2 linked regions of the Homo sapiens genome follow. The protein of the gene in region 1 purifies or fractionates together with the protein of each later gene. This does not show direct contact. Each region holds a gene or a part of one and is shown in the gene's direction. Other genes may lie near its edges.

The links. The genes of interacting proteins can lie anywhere in the genome.
Region 2: the proteins of MS4A7 (region 1) and CPNE7 purify together in Homo sapiens (affinity purification with mass spectrometry; 2 studies listed by BioGRID and IntAct, with this or other methods). This does not show direct contact.

Annotation. Positions count from the first base shown.
Region 1 is NC_000011.10:60,381,040-60,388,767, forward strand, and holds part of MS4A7 (membrane-spanning 4-domains subfamily A member 7), read left to right. Parts: intron 1-2,089; 5' UTR 2,090-2,102; coding exon 2,103-2,249; intron 2,250-4,048; coding exon 4,049-4,183; intron 4,184-5,677; coding exon 5,678-5,734; intron 5,735-7,728. UniProt on the Homo sapiens protein: May be involved in signal transduction as a component of a multimeric receptor complex.
Region 2 is NC_000016.10:89,578,614-89,586,341, forward strand, and holds part of CPNE7 (copine-7), read left to right. Parts: intron 1-243; coding exon of another isoform or gene 244-383; intron 384-4,830; coding exon of another isoform or gene 4,831-4,915; intron 4,916-5,083; coding exon 5,084-5,158; intron 5,159-5,414; coding exon 5,415-5,489; intron 5,490-6,160; coding exon 6,161-6,244; intron 6,245-6,850; coding exon 6,851-6,940; intron 6,941-7,073; coding exon 7,074-7,172; intron 7,173-7,728. UniProt on the Homo sapiens protein: Calcium-dependent phospholipid-binding protein that may play a role in calcium-mediated intracellular processes.

The DNA of each region.
Region 1 (7,728 bases):
ACTGCAGATTAAATGAGACTGTCACAAAGCTCTTAATAGAATGCCACATTCATAGTACGTGCCCAATCAATGTTAGCAATGATTATCATTTTATCATGAACTACTGTTTGATTCTGGAACCTAGAATTTCTCTAAGCCTGACACTTTTTCTCCTTCTCTGGCTTTAAAGATGTGCTGGAAGGCTCACCCTGACTCCACTGCAGGGATTCAGCTTCAACATTATTCCCCTCATAGGACATGTAACCTCACCCACACTTCTACCCAGATTTCAAAATTCCAAGAAATGAAAACTATCTCCTTAAACAAAGAGAACTTTAGGTTTAATAATTCTTCAGATAAAGTATCTCATGCCCGGAGAGCATGAGAAACTAGACTAAGGCACAGATCTAGGAGTAGAAATAAAATGGAGGTCCAAACATGGATCGACTATTATGGAACACCTGATAAAACTCAGAGAGTTACAACAAAAGACACTCACGTGTGTCATTCAAATCCTCACAAGAGTCCTTCAGGATAGTGTCATTATCCTTATTTTACAGATAAGGAAACTGGGGATGAATGAGGGAAAGTATCCTGCCTACGGCCAGCTCATCAATATCAGAACTGGGCTTCCAATGAATATTAGATAAAACTGATATGTTTTGGGAGTTTATCACATGCCTCCCCCTATGCTGAGTCCATTATATGTGTCATCTTATCCAACCTGTACCACAAACCTATGAAGTGGTGAAAATACCTTGCCCAGGGTGAGTTTAGCAGTAACTGGTGGATATGGGATCTGAACACACGACTGGACTCCAAGACATATGGTCAGATGTGCAACTAGATGCCTAGGCATTGGACTCCCATCCCAGTGCACTTTTCCATCTCCCTCACTAGGAAGAGATTCTAGGTGTCATTTCCAATTTTTACATGTTCTTCACTCCACCCAAGAGAGGCCAGAACCATTCCTAAAGCACCAACACATTGAGGCAAAATGTCAGGCAGCAGAGCTGTGGCACCTTTCAAGGATGACAAGCCTTTAACTAAACTCTGGCCTTCAGTAGGGAGAATGTTGAGCTGAAAACAAATCTGGGCAACATTTCAGGTGCTGAGCCTTGTTGCTGACACCACAGAGGCCCAGCAATGCTGCTGAGTTAGTGGTGGCAGACAACTTGCTCCTGGAATCTACAAGGGAACTGGAAATGTTAGGAAGGAAGAAAGGAAGGAAGAGGAAGAGGAGGAGAATTAACATGGCATAGAGAAAAAAATATCACAAGCGTCTGAGCCAGACAAGTCTCAATCCAGTCATGTAAACACAGGCTGTTAATATTTGCTACCATATATTGAACACATTCTAAGTGCCAGGCTAAGTACTTTATGTGACTATTTCATTCAATAAAAGTCACTTGAGCTTATTAGCCCCAGGTTTCTAATGTATAAAATTGATTTAATAACATGTAAGTTACAGGGTTGTTATAAGGATTAGAGCTGCAATGGTCTAATGCTTGGAATTCAGCAGGAGTTAAGTAAATGTTTACATTACTAATTACGAAGCCAATATAAGCAAGGAGGAAGATTCCGGATGGGACAGGCCATCTCGCTATAGGAAAGGAAAGTGGAACAGCATTCATCCTCAACATTTTTACGAAGACAAAATGAAGACTGGAGTAGAAGACTGATCAGTGCAGGTGTAGCATAAAAGTGTAATCCTGGAAGATGTGGTGTGAGAAGGTAGCACAAGTGAAGCAGAGATACAGGAGATAGGGAAGGGAAGCTGGAAGCAGAGGTCACTGGAGGGAGAGGGAGATGGACACATTCAGGGCTACAAAGCAAGTTCTATGTGATTTGCTCACCTCTCAATTGTGGGACCCCTCAAAATGTGTACAGTACTCTCCCAGTGACATGCTTCTTGACCACAATGGATGAACTGTGCCCAGCATGCCCACTTTCCAATGCTCCACTGATCCCCATGTTTTGTTTCTGAAGGACAACCAGCCTTGGAATAATGGCAAATACCTTCTTAAGTTCCTACAAAGTATGGTCCCTGGGAAGTTTATGTCTGTAAGTCAAACCTTGGGAAGTAACTGAGTTTTGATGCCTCTTCCAGCATCATCAGCATCATGCTATTACAATCCCAAACCATGGGGGTTTCTCACAGCTTTACACCAAAGGGCATCACTATCCCTCAAAGAGAGAAACCTGGACACATGTACCAAAACGAAGATTACCTGCAGAACGGGCTGCCAACAGAAACCACCGTTCTTGGGGTAAGTCCACCTCATTATAAGGGGAATACTGAGAAAATACTTTGTAAATGTATCTAGACTACAGATCTACAGTGGGTCTGGGAAACTCTTTCACTCTTTTCTGGCTGACTCCAGGCTAATGAGGACATGAAATGGAGCTTTAAGGGAAGACTCTTAAAGCTCTGCAGCAGTTTCTAGAAACTAAAACCACTAGATCTTTTTCACTAGCATGCTTCACAATTAACAGGTTAGTCTTTCTTATTTTATTTATTTATATATTTATTTATTTTGAGACAGAATCTCCCTCTGTCACCCAGCATGGAGTGCAGTGGCACGATCTCAGCTCACTGCAACCTCCGCCTCCTGGGTTCAAGTGATTCTTCTGCCTCAGCCTCCCGAGTAGCTGGGACTATGGGTGCACGCCACCACGCCCGGCTAATTTTTGTATTCTTAGTAGAGATGGGGTTTCACCATACTGGCCAGGCTGGTCTTGAACTCCTGACCTTGTGATCTGCCCGCCTTGGCCTCCCAAAGTGCTGGGATTACAGGCATGAGCCACTGTGCCCAGCCACAAATTAGTCTTTCTTATTTTGTCATTAGTACAGTAAAAATTTTCTATTTAACCATATGGATTTTACTCAATATGATTAAATTAACTTTGAGCTTATTTTTCAAATATTTTGAGATGAGACGATCAAGACTAATCTCATGACCCATTTTTCCCCGTTCATATGAGTAACTATAAGACATCCAAGTGTCCCAGATCATCATCCCTCATATCCAGAACTTTAATCTCCATGTGGTTTTGAATACCCTCTTATAATACCCAGGTCCTATTCACTGCCTATTTAGATGGATCTCCCTGCCCTGTTTCTTTACAATCTATTCTTAGTACAGCAGGTAGGGTACTCTTTTAAAAATGAAAGTTAGATCATGTATTCTCCTGGCTCAAAATTATCCAGTGGGATTCCTTTTTTGCTCAAAATGAAAAGCAAAGTTGGTAAAACATAGCCTAAAAATCCCTACATAGTTTGTACCATGCCTCCAGTACTTCACAAGCCTCATGTCCTACTACTTTGCTCTTAACTCTATTCTGCCTTGCATGGAACTTGTCTGTACCTTTACAGACAAGACATAGTACACATATAAGCTCTCCAATGGTAGTGATTTTCATTTGCTTCATTCCCTCGTGCCTGGCACACAACATACCTGTTGTGGTATTCAATAACTGTTGATGATGTGAATGGTTGACTTCTTTTTTTATTTCTCCTATGTTTGCATCATCTTTCAATTGCACATGCATTAAACTATGAGCAAAAGCATGGGCTTTAGAGCAAGCTAACAGCTAAACTTCAGTTCTTCCACTTGCGAAATAATTATTATTAAAATCCAATGATGAACAAAATAAGATGAATTACAGCAGAAGAGATGACCTGCTCTATCTAATTTCAACTGAAAAATCTCTTCATTAACACTCCTGTGAAAAGTTTGCTCTCTATTTCCACCTCACTGGACAACTTTTTTATCTACTTTTCAAGAAAATAAATTTAAAAACTGTCAAGTATCTTTTTCAAAAAAAGTTAAAATGTGTGTATGATCACTTTCCGATTTGCTGGTTTAATAATCCTATCAGAAAAGAAGAGGTTAGCTATACATGACTTTCTCTAGAAGCATATCGATTGGCTCCTTGTAACATTTTTCCTCTTTAATATAACAAATTATAATGTATTTTATACTCTTTATACTTTACCGTGTGCATTCAAATAATCACTTTTATCTGTTTGAAGTGCAGTCTAGATTTCCTGTCTTCTCTCTTGTAGACTGTCCAGATCCTGTGTTGCCTGTTGATTTCAAGTCTGGGGGCCATCTTGGTTTTTGCTCCCTACCCCTCCCACTTCAATCCAGCAATTTCCACCACTTTGATGTCTGGGTACCCATTTTTAGGAGCTCTGTGTGTGAGTAGAATGGGGACTCTAAGAGGGGACATGCTTTATAAATGCTAACCAGGTGCATAGTCGTGGAGTGACTCAGACTCCAAGAGGCCAGGAGGCAAAAGGCGGCAAGGCCTCGACTTTCCTTCTATCATTGCCCCACGTCACATTTCCCCTATTCAAGAAGAGCAGCAGAGAGACTTAATCTGTCTTCCTGCAGAGCAGGGGGCAAGAGGGAATGGTAATACAATGGGTATACCAGCACAGAATTTCTTACCTGGCATTACAGCATACCTCTAGAAAAGTGGATGATTTTCCATATCCCTCTTTGAGGCTTTGATGAGGCCATTGGATTCCCTCCATTGTAAGAATAATCAACTTTTCAGGTAGAGAGTGAGAAGGCCATTTTTAAACAATAAAACGAGCACCACTGGTTGATGCCACAGGTTTGCAGAGATTTGGATTAACAAGGGTAAGATTCATGGGAGGCAGGGACATGCTTGCTGTGTGTCCAGAGGTAACCCTGAGCACTAGAGAAACTCTCTTTGCTGCCTTCCACCTAATGGCTCATGAAAAAGGGCCCAGTAGATCCATTTTTCAGAGAGTGGCCAGGGCAGACTCACACTTCCCACAAAGGGTTATTTCTTCTCCACGTAGTATTTGGTACAAAGGATAAAAATCAAATATTCTGGGCAAATGAACTATACTAAGGTACCACTTCTGTGTGGATACAGTCCCTGTGTGAACACAAACTGTGCAGTCACATAAGGAGGCCCTGGTCCTGCCCCAGAGCACAATTTGTCCTTGACTTCTCCTGTAACCAGTGGTTGTGGGCCCCACATCTCCTTAGAGAAGCTAGCGTTAGCTCATACTGGACCCTCTTTGCCTGTGATTATTCAATATCCAAGCCACACACTTAAGCAACTTTTCAGCTTCTCAGAATACCCTTCCTCTGCCAGCTGGATCTTTAATACCACTGAGATTAAATACTGATTTCTGGGGCTTTATGATAAAGACTTCACGTCTGAGCCTGCTCTTCCCACTTTCCTCGACTCCCATTCTGACTCAAGCAACATACACCAATAACTTCCAGTCCATGTGTTTCTGCACCTTGTCCCATCAGAGCCTCTTTCCTGAGTGCTTCTGTTGGCTGTTCCAATCTCTCTGTCCATTCAAGTCATTGGTCCATCTCAACCTCCTCTCTTTCAACCCTGTAATTTAGTAACACTCTTCTCCTTCCCAGGTACACCTTTTCTCCAGGCCTCCTCAGTTCCTAGTGATTTCCACTAAAACAAATCCAACCCCTCTGTGCATCTGCATGTCATTCAAAGTCAATATAGACATTCTTATATCAGGTGGGAATTAGGCCTATCTAGCAATATAGATCCACAAGATTTCTGCAGTGTTCTCTCCCTAAAAGTTTTCCAACATCACTTTTTGATTGAGTGATTGACAGTGACATGGTGGGCACATTTCCACAAGACAACTGAACTGATCATTTCTCTCTCTTCTGGGCAGTTTGGCATTACTGGATCCCTCTCAATTATCTCTGGAAAACAATCAACTAAGCCCTTTGTAAGTATAAGGACCATCAAATCTCAGCTGGTTGGAATTGAAGGAACGTCAGAGTTAATTCTTCTAGTTTAAAAATCCCTATTTTACAATTTAGAGAGAAAAAGCTTAGAACAGGCTAGGAAGCCCAGGTTTTCCTGGCTGTCCCATTGGTAGAACCAAGAGTAGAGCCCAAATTTCTTGCCTTCTAGACCAGTGCTCTTTCGTCTACACAATGTTGCTCCTGGATTATATTCCAAGCTTGGAGGAGGTTTACCTCAGTTATTTAAAAAGTGTACATTTTTAAATGTACCATGGACTCTTTATAGCTTGTAACCTTGACCTTGAATAAGGTAGCCACCCATCCCAGAGAGAGCCTACAGATCCTTTTTTCTATAAAACCTGCCTCTTGGGGTTCTTTTTGATGCCAAATGTCCCCATTCATAGAGTTGGGACTTCACACAAATTCTAGCCCTTCAGCGTCAGGGTGACCAATTGTTTGGTTTTCCCAGGACTGTCTCAGTTTTAGCCCAGAAAGCCTATATCCTGGGAAACCCCTTACTCCCCAGGCAAAGCAGAATAACTGGTTTACCCTACTCTGTGACCGTGGTAACAAGTTGAAAGAAGTCCATGATATATTTTCAAAGTTCTACTATTTAAGCAACTGAAATAAACTTCTTTCAGTCAAATATCAGGTGGGGAGGCATTCATTCCCCTGTCAGAAGAGGGTGTTGCCGTCTTCATCCAGGCTGGAGGAGACTATTTCCATCCAAAGACTCATGCTTGATAATTGGATGTTTGAGAAAAAAAATCAGTTTAAAGTAAGGTGGGAGAAAATGAGGGTGATGGAGTAGGGGTGAGGGGGATGTCTGCAATGTCAGCACTGATTGCAGCACCAAACTCAAAGACAATACCACTCATGCCACTGCCAACATACCCCTGGCTTCCTCAACAACTTTAGAATTATTATATTGCCCTAAGTGCATCTAGAATATGACCTTTGGTCCCTCCCTAGAAACCCAATGTATGTCTTCTTACTTAAAAGAGCGGCTTCAGAGAAAAGACAAAAGCAAACTGAAGAAGTTGGAATACCTACCTACAGGTGGATCAGGCCTATGAGAACCACATTCACCACACCATTTCCCAACTCCTCTTCTACATTTTAGGAGACAGGATTCTCCCATAGCATGACGATTCACTAGCAAAGACACTGATGTGCCAGGCTCTGTGCGAGGTTTCCAGCACATGCTCCTCTCTGTTTAAGCATCACTGGAAGACAATGTATGTTGGGAAGGATGGTTGTCCTGCCCTTTTCTACTCCAGCTCTGTAGCTATATGGATTCATGTGCTGAGTCTTTGAAGGAAAAGTAGTCCCAGTGGGCAGTATCTTTGCCCAAAGCTACCATATGAGCAATGGAGCCCACATGTTGTTCTTTGTCCCACTTGTGGAGCCCACATTGTTGTCAAGTCCAAGCATAGATTTCCCTTTCTGTGTATTCAGTGCATTTGGGAAGCCACTTCTGAGATCAGAAGATTCATCTTCCACATTTTATAAAAGAGATAACTGAAGCCCAGAGTAAGAAGGACTTGCTCAAGCACACAGATGGATCAGTGACAGATGGGTCAGTGACAGAGCTGGGATAGGAGGAGAGGATTTCAGTTTCTAAGTCCAGAACTATGACTCCAACCAATGAATGCTGTGAACTCTTCAAAACCCTCTTCCATAATCCTGGGTTCTAGACTGCAGCTTCAATCATCAGGAGCATATACCAGCCTCATGCACCATCCATGTGTCCTCATCTGTGCCTAGCCAGGCCCTGTATCTTCTTGAGTCAGGATGTGGCTTTTCCCTAAATCACCTCTATGGGTGTGTGGCAGGGAAGAGAGAAAGGCTGCTACGGAGAGAAGCAAAGGCTTTATAGCTGCTTCCTCCCTTTCTCCCTCCAAGGTTTGTGGGAAAAGTGGCTACAGTCTGATAATATTTCTGTTTGTGAATGGGTGGAGAGAGAAGCACAGGG
Region 2 (7,728 bases), on another chromosome or scaffold:
GCCGGGCATGGTGGCATGTGCCTGTAATCCCAGCTACTCTGGAGGCTGAGGCAGGAGAATCGGTTGAACCCGGGAGGCAGAGGTTGCAGTGAGTGGAGATCTCACCACTGCACTCCAGCCTGAGTGACAGATTGAGACTCTGTCTCAAAAAAAAAAAAAAAAAAAGAAGCCTCCTTGTGAGCAGCAGGTCCTACGGTGGCCACTGCTTCCTTGGTGATGCTCTCTGGGTTACGGCCTCCACAGCCAGCCCAAAAGTGGCTTCTGCAAGTCGTGATGAGAGTGTCTGTTGATGTGCTGGGCCCTGCTGGACACTGCGCTAAGCACTTCCTGTGCTGCACGGAATCCTCACACCTTGCCAGGACGGGTCCTTCTTTTTTATTGAGGTAAAATTTACAGGCCGGGCACGGTGGCTCACGCCTGTAATCGCAGCACTTTGGAAGTCCGAGGTGGGGGGATCACGAGGTCAGGAGTTCGAGACCAGCCTGGCCAACATGATGAAACCCCATCTCTACTAAAAATAGAAAAGAAATTAGCCAGGCGTGGTGGTGCGTGCCTGTAGTCCCAGCTACTGGGGAGGCTGAGGCAGGAGAATCACTTGAACCTGGGAGGCAGAGGTTTCAGCGAGCCGAGATCGCGCCACTGCACACCAGCCCAGGTGACAGTGAGTCTTTGTCTCAAAAAAAAAAAAAAATTTTACGATAAAATGCATCAATCTTAAGGGTTGAGAATGACAAGTTTAGGTGACTGTACACAGCTGACCATCACCCGTCACACAGAACATCCCGTCACACGGAACATCTCACCTGTCACACAGAACATCCCTTCACCCCTCACACGGAACATCCTGTCACCTGCTGACACGGAACATCCGATCACCCGTCACACGGAACATCCCATCACACAGAACATCCCATCACTTGTCACATCTCACCCATGACACGGAACATCCCGTCAGCCATCACATCTCACCCGTCACACAGAACATCCCTTCACCCATCACACGGAACATCCCATCACCCATCACATCTCACCCGTCACATGGAACATCCCTTCACCCATCACATGGAACATCCCGTCATCTGCTCACATGGAACATCCCATCACCCATCACACGGAACATCCCATCACCCATCACACAGAACATCTCACCCATCACACGGAACATCCCGTCACCCGCTGACACGGAACATCTCACCCGTCACACGGAACATCCCACACCCATCACACGGAACATCTCACCCATCACACGGAACATCCCGTCACCTGCTGACACGGAACATCTCACCCATCACACGGAACATCCCGTCACCCGCTGACACAGAACATCTCACCCGTCACATGGAACATCCCGTCACCCGTCACACGGAACATCCCATCACACGGAACATCTCACCCATCACACGGAACATCCTGTCACCCGCTGACACGGAACATCTCACCCGTCACACGGAACATCCCATCACCTGCAGACACGGAACATCTCACCCATCACACAGAACATCCCGTCACCCGCTGACACAGAACATCTCACCCGTCACACGGAACATCCCGTCACCCGCTGACACAGAACATCTCACCCGTCACACGGAACATCCCGTCACCCGCTGACACGGAACATCTCCCCCATCACACGGAACATCCCATCACCTGCAGACACAGAACATCTCACCCATCACACGGAACATCCCGTCACCCGCTGACACAGAACATCTCACCCGTCACACGGAACATCCCATCACCCGTCACACGGAACATCCCATCACCCGTCACATGGAACATCCCATCACCCGTCACACGGAACATCCCATCACCCATCACACAGAACATCTCACCCATCACACGGAACATCTCACCCATCACACGGAACATCCCGTCACCCGCTGACACAGAACATCTCACCCGTCACACGGAACATCCCATCACCCGTCACATGGAACATCCCATCACCCATCACACGGAACATCTCACCCATCACACGGAACATCCCGTCACCCGCTGACACGGAACATCTCACCTGTCACACGGAACATCCCATCACCCGTCACATGGAACATCCCATCACCCATCACACGGAACATCTCACCTGTCACACGGAACATCCCGTCACCCGCTGACACAGAACATCTCACCCATCACACGGAACATCCCATCACCCGCTGACACAGAACATCTCACCCGTCACACGGAACATCCCGTCACCTGTAACACGGAACATCCCGTCACCCATCACACGGAACATCCCATCACCCGTCACACGGAACATGCCATCACCCGTCACACGGAACATCCCATCACCCGTCACATGGAACATCTCACCCATCACACGGAACATCCCGTCACCCGCTGACATGGAACATCTCACCCATCACACGGAACATCCCATCACCTGTCACACGGAACATCCCGTCACCCGTCACACGGAACATCCCGTAACCCATCACATGGAACATCCCGTCACCTGTCACACGGAACATCCCATCACCCGTCACATGGAACATCTCACCAATCACACAGAACATCTCACCCATCACATGGAACATCCCGTCACCCGTCACACGGAACATTCCGTCTCCCGCTGACACGGAATATCTGATCACCCATCACATGGAACATCCCATCACCCACTCACACGGAACATCCGATCACCCGTCACACGGAACATCCTGTCACCAGTCACACAGAACATCCCGTCACCCATCACACGGAACATCCCATCACCCGTCACACGGAACATCCCGTCACCCATCACACGGAACATCCCGTCACCCGCAGCTGCCCCTGCCCCTTTGTGGCCAGCTCCCCGCCTGGTTCGTCTCTTCTGGAATTCCACGTCCATGAATCACAGCGCGTGTTCTCCCTGCTGTGGAATTCTTTTACCCAACATAATGTCTGCGTGACTCATCCCCCTGCAGCCTCGGTCGGAGCTGGCGTGCCATCGATCCTGTTGTCCTCCCCATTTTTTAGATAAGGAAACTGAGAGTTAGGGAGGGCACAGATGGAAGAGGATGGCACGGACACAGAAATATGGACATGCTTTTTTTGTTTTTTTGAGTTGGGTTCTCACTCTGCCGCCCAGGCTGGAGTGCAGTGGGACAGTCACAGCTCACTGCAGCCTCAACGGCCTGTGCTCAAGCAATCCTCTCACCTCAGCCTCCTGAGTAGCTGGGACTACAGGTGTACGCCACCAGACCTGGCTACGTTTTGCATTTTTTGAAGAGACAGGGGTCTCACCATGTTGCCCCAACTGGTCTTGAACTCCCGGGCTCACCGATCCACCCACCCTGGGCTCCCAAAATGTTGGGATTATAGGCATGAGCCACTGTGTCTGGCCTGGACACCTTTCTATGTACACACAGGTGCACATGTATGTCATAATCCGTGCAGGACATCCTATGCCTGTTCACATAAGCACACACACAGGGTCCGTGTGGACACCTGCGTGCAGATATGAATGTGTGTGTGAGCACGTGTGCTGTGGATATGTGCAAACTTCCAGCAATGAGGAGGCCCCTCGTGGGTTCCTGCTCTGTGGCCACCCAGCTGACCTGCAGGGCACCACGGTCAAGGGAGAAGCTACTGGCATCCAGTCCCTGTGCTGTGGCTTTGAGCCTGACCTGACCTCTGACCCCTGACTTCTGCCTCAACTGTTTCCTCATGTGATTCAAGTAAACAGTAACTCAGCCCAGAGCCAGGGATCCAGGAAGTGCTTATTAAACGCTGTTGGCACAAATCAGCGATCTCGTATTTCCTGGTAGGGGAATCTGTTGTGTTAGCCTGAGCCCGTTTCTCTCCTAAGGACCTGCTCTCCTGCCAGAAAGGGGAGGCCACTCCTTTCCTGCGCCCTCCCTGGAAGCAAACCAGGCCGGCAGGCGAGTCCCAGGTGTGAGGCAGAGGCCCTGGCTCAGGAGCCCCAGAAGGAAACCTTTGAATCAGGGAATCTTGGGGGGCCTGGCCCGAGGCTCCCCCTCCCAGCACCCAGGACCCCTTTGCACCCCTAAGAGAGCCTTCCCACCCCTTAACCTGACTTGACTTCCCCAGCCCTGACCTGGGATCTGCTTTCTCTTCTGTGTGGAAAGTGCCGCATGCTCAGAAGCTGCTGGCCAGGCCGGCCCTGGTTGGGGGTGGAGGGACTGCCCCTCTCTGCTTTGTATTCAACCTACCTCATTGTGACCTCCCAGCATCCGCCAGGCAGTAGCAGGTGTGAGGGCAGGTGGGAAGCACACACCTGCTACCTGGTGGGCCATTCGATGGTTGCTGAGATCACTTACGTGTGAGGAGATGACGGCCACCCCGCTTGGCCGGGGTCATCACCATCTCCTTTCGGACACGGAGCCTGGGAGGGCCGTGTGCCCCCGTCCTGCTCCTCACTGAGGAGATGACCTGGCTGCAGGGGCCTGGGCCTGTCATCCGCCACCCACCCCAGGTGGGCTCATAGCCGATGGGGCGGAAGTCCAGCAGGGCCTGGTGAGGAGGAGGAGGCCCCGGCTGCATGAGGAGGTCCCCAGGGTCTAAGCCCCAGTCCACTTCGAACAATCAACTCTGCTCCTTGGCACCTTCGAAGAGGAGTGGGCGGTGGGGTCCTGGGCCGGCACCTCGCTCACACCCTTTCTGCCGCCCGTGGCTACGTGGACATGCTGGGCGTGAGGGTCCGGGGCCGTTTGAGCTGCCTCGCCTCTGCTTCTGCGGGTTCTCACCTGGGCCTGGAGAGGGTCAGGGCAGCCCTGCTTACCTGTGGAGGGGCGTCCGCCACACCTGTGCAGGTGCAGGCCAGCTGGGCTGTGAGCTGCTTCCTGGCTTCCACCTGAGCCTGTTTCCTCACCTGGTAAATAGGTATGATGACCTCTGCCTCCCCTGGGCGACTGCTGGCGCCGTGAGGTGGTGGACGTGCAGGGGTGGCCACACGCAGGGATGGCAGGTGCTTGAGAGCAGCCACAAAGGGGGCGCGGGCCCTGGGCAGTGAAGCTCATGGTGGGGGATGGGGAGACAGGACAGGCCTGAGAGTCCGGGTGAGGGCGCGGTGGGGTCTCCAGGGTCAGGAGCCGTCCCCGCCTGCCCCTCCCTGCCTGACGCCTCTGACTTACAGATTGTGGCCCAGAAGAAGGTGACCCGCCCGCTGCTGCTCAAGTTTGGCAGGAACGCTGGCAAGTCCACCATCACGGTGAGACCCGGGCGCACCCCTGCAGCCTGCAGGCCCTGCTGCTGTGGCTCCGAGGGGTGTTGTGGGCGGAAGATGGGCAGCAGCGTGCCGTCCAGGGAGGGTCTGCAGGAGCCGGCAGCTACACAGCCCCGGGGGTACACAGACACCTCCTCTCAGGCCCCGCTGGGTGGGGTCAGCCAGCCTGGGGCCTCTGGTCCCCCACGGTGGGGTCAGGCCCCACCTGGCCAAGCCTGGAGCCCGGGCGTCCCCCTGCCAGGTGATCGCCGAGGACATCTCGGGGAACAACGGCTACGTGGAGCTCTCCTTCCGGGCCAGGAAGCTGGACGACAAGGTGAGTGCAGGTGCCGGGCACGCCTGGCTCAGGCTGAGGTCCGGGAACCGGTTCGAAAACCCGGTCCCTGCCCAGCGCTGACCTCGCGTGGCTATGTCCCGTGTGAGACGTGTGCGGAGTGTGCCTGGGGCTGGGCGTGCTGCCGTCACGGTCGCCATCATCACTGTCACCGCCATTAGCTCTCCCGCCCCTCCTGGCAGCTGGGCTGGGGCTGGGGCAGCTCCCTCCTGTGGGGACCACTCATGACCCTGCTCAGGGATGGGGAAATAGGCCCAGCACCCCCGAGGCCACTGTCGTGACAGGAGGAACTGGAACAGCGCGCGGTTCTGCGGGCTCGTCACGTGGGTGGGCAGAACAGGGTCCAACCCCGCCATGTAGGGCGTCTCCCTGGAGGGGCTGAGTCGCAGGGTGTGTAGGGCAAGTCCGTGGAGGGCTGAGTCGCAGGGTGTGCAGGGTGACTCCATGGAGGGCTGAGTTGCCCGCCGTGGTCAGATCCCTGGGGGCGGGAGGGAGGGACGAGATGCTGTCGGCGGGGACTGGCTGCCTCGTTTTGTGCCTGAGGAATTAGCGGCTGGTGGCATGAAGTGAGCCCTGGGAAACGACAAAGCCAGCTCCCATCCAAAGCCCGATCTCACAGTGCCTGGCCCAGCAGCCCTTGTGCCTCTCCCCAGGACCTCTTCAGCAAGTCCGACCCCTTCCTGGAGCTCTACAGGGTCAACGACGACCAGGGCTTGCAGCTGGTGTACAGGACGGAGGTGAGCGGCCGGGGATGGGAACACAGGGAGGGGAAGGGGCTGTCCCCAGCCCTCACGCATCTCTGGCCACATGGGAGGAGCTCCCAGCCTCCAACAGGGAGCTGTGGGCGCAGGGCTTTGGTGGCTGTGGCTATGGCCAGAATCCAACAGGGAGCCGCAGGCGCAGGGCCCTGGGGGCCGTGGCTGTGGCCAGAATCCAGCAGGCTTGTGTAGTCGTGGCTGTGATTATTTTTAGACCTACCTTCCACTTCCTGCAGGTGAAATGGGATTTCAGCGACGGCAGGGAGAGAGTGCTTTCTTTTGAGAGAAATTAACTTGAGTGAAAATGAATCTATTTAAGGAAGAGAGCAGCGCAGGTGGCTCAGAGGTGGCAGAAGTTACGAAGGTGGAGGCACAGGGCTCGGAAATGTGTCTCCCGGGTCCTCACATGGCTTCGTGCAGGGAGTGGGTGCCAGCCCCAGCTCAGGGCCCCGGCGCTGTCTGGGGTGATGCAGGGGCAGGGCCAGCTGTGCCCGCCTCACAGCTGCTCTTCCACCCAGGTCTCTATCCCCCCCAAGGATCCCAGGGCCCTGGGCCTCCCCTGAGCCAGCCCCTCCCGGCCCACAGGTGGTGAAGAACAACCTGAACCCGGTGTGGGAGGCCTTCAAAGTCTCTCTGAGTTCCCTCTGCAGCTGCGAGGAGACAAGGCCTCTAAAGGTGGGGGACGGGATGGACCAAGGGGGCAGTGAGGGGGTGGCCTGGATGTGGGCTGCGATGGAGACACCTGGGCTCGGGTGGGAGGGTCCTGGGGCCCCCAGACAGCAGTGCTGAGGAGGACTGGGCTCCCCAGTGCCTGGTCTGGGATTACGACTCTCGAGGAAAGCACGACTTCATCGGAGAATTCTCTACCACCTTCGAGGAGATGCAGAAGGCCTTTGAGGAGGGGCAGGTGAGCAGGACGGGGTAGGGGGTCCTCCAGGGAGGGTCAGGTGGGGGTGGAGGGGGGCCTTCGGGGAGGGGTAGGTGAGCAGGACTGGGGGGGTACCTCCAGGAAGTGTCAGGTGAGGAGGTGGGGGGTGGGGTAGGGGCCTCCGTGGAGGGGCATGTGGGTGGGCACCTCTGGGGAGGAGCAGGTTGGGGGGGCCTTTGGGGAGGTTCAGGTGAGGGGGGCCTCCAGGGAGGGGCAGTTAGCAGGGGGAGGGGGCATTCAGGGAGGGGCAGGTGAGGGGGGCCTCTGGGGAGGGGCAGGTGAGTCGGGGGCACACCTGGGCTACGCCTGTGTTGGCCCTGCCACAGAGGCTGTGAAACCCTGTCCCACTGTCCTGATGGGGTTGTGGGGAGTGGTGACAATGACTTGTTATAACCAGAGAAGGCTGAGGATGGTGGACCCTGGTGCTGGCTCCTGAGGGGTCATAGCAGGGGTGGCCCCCATCAGGTTCAGCTGGACATTTCAGGCACCATCTGGGTCTGGGCACAGGGGTGGTGGGAGGTGGGGCCAAGGGGTG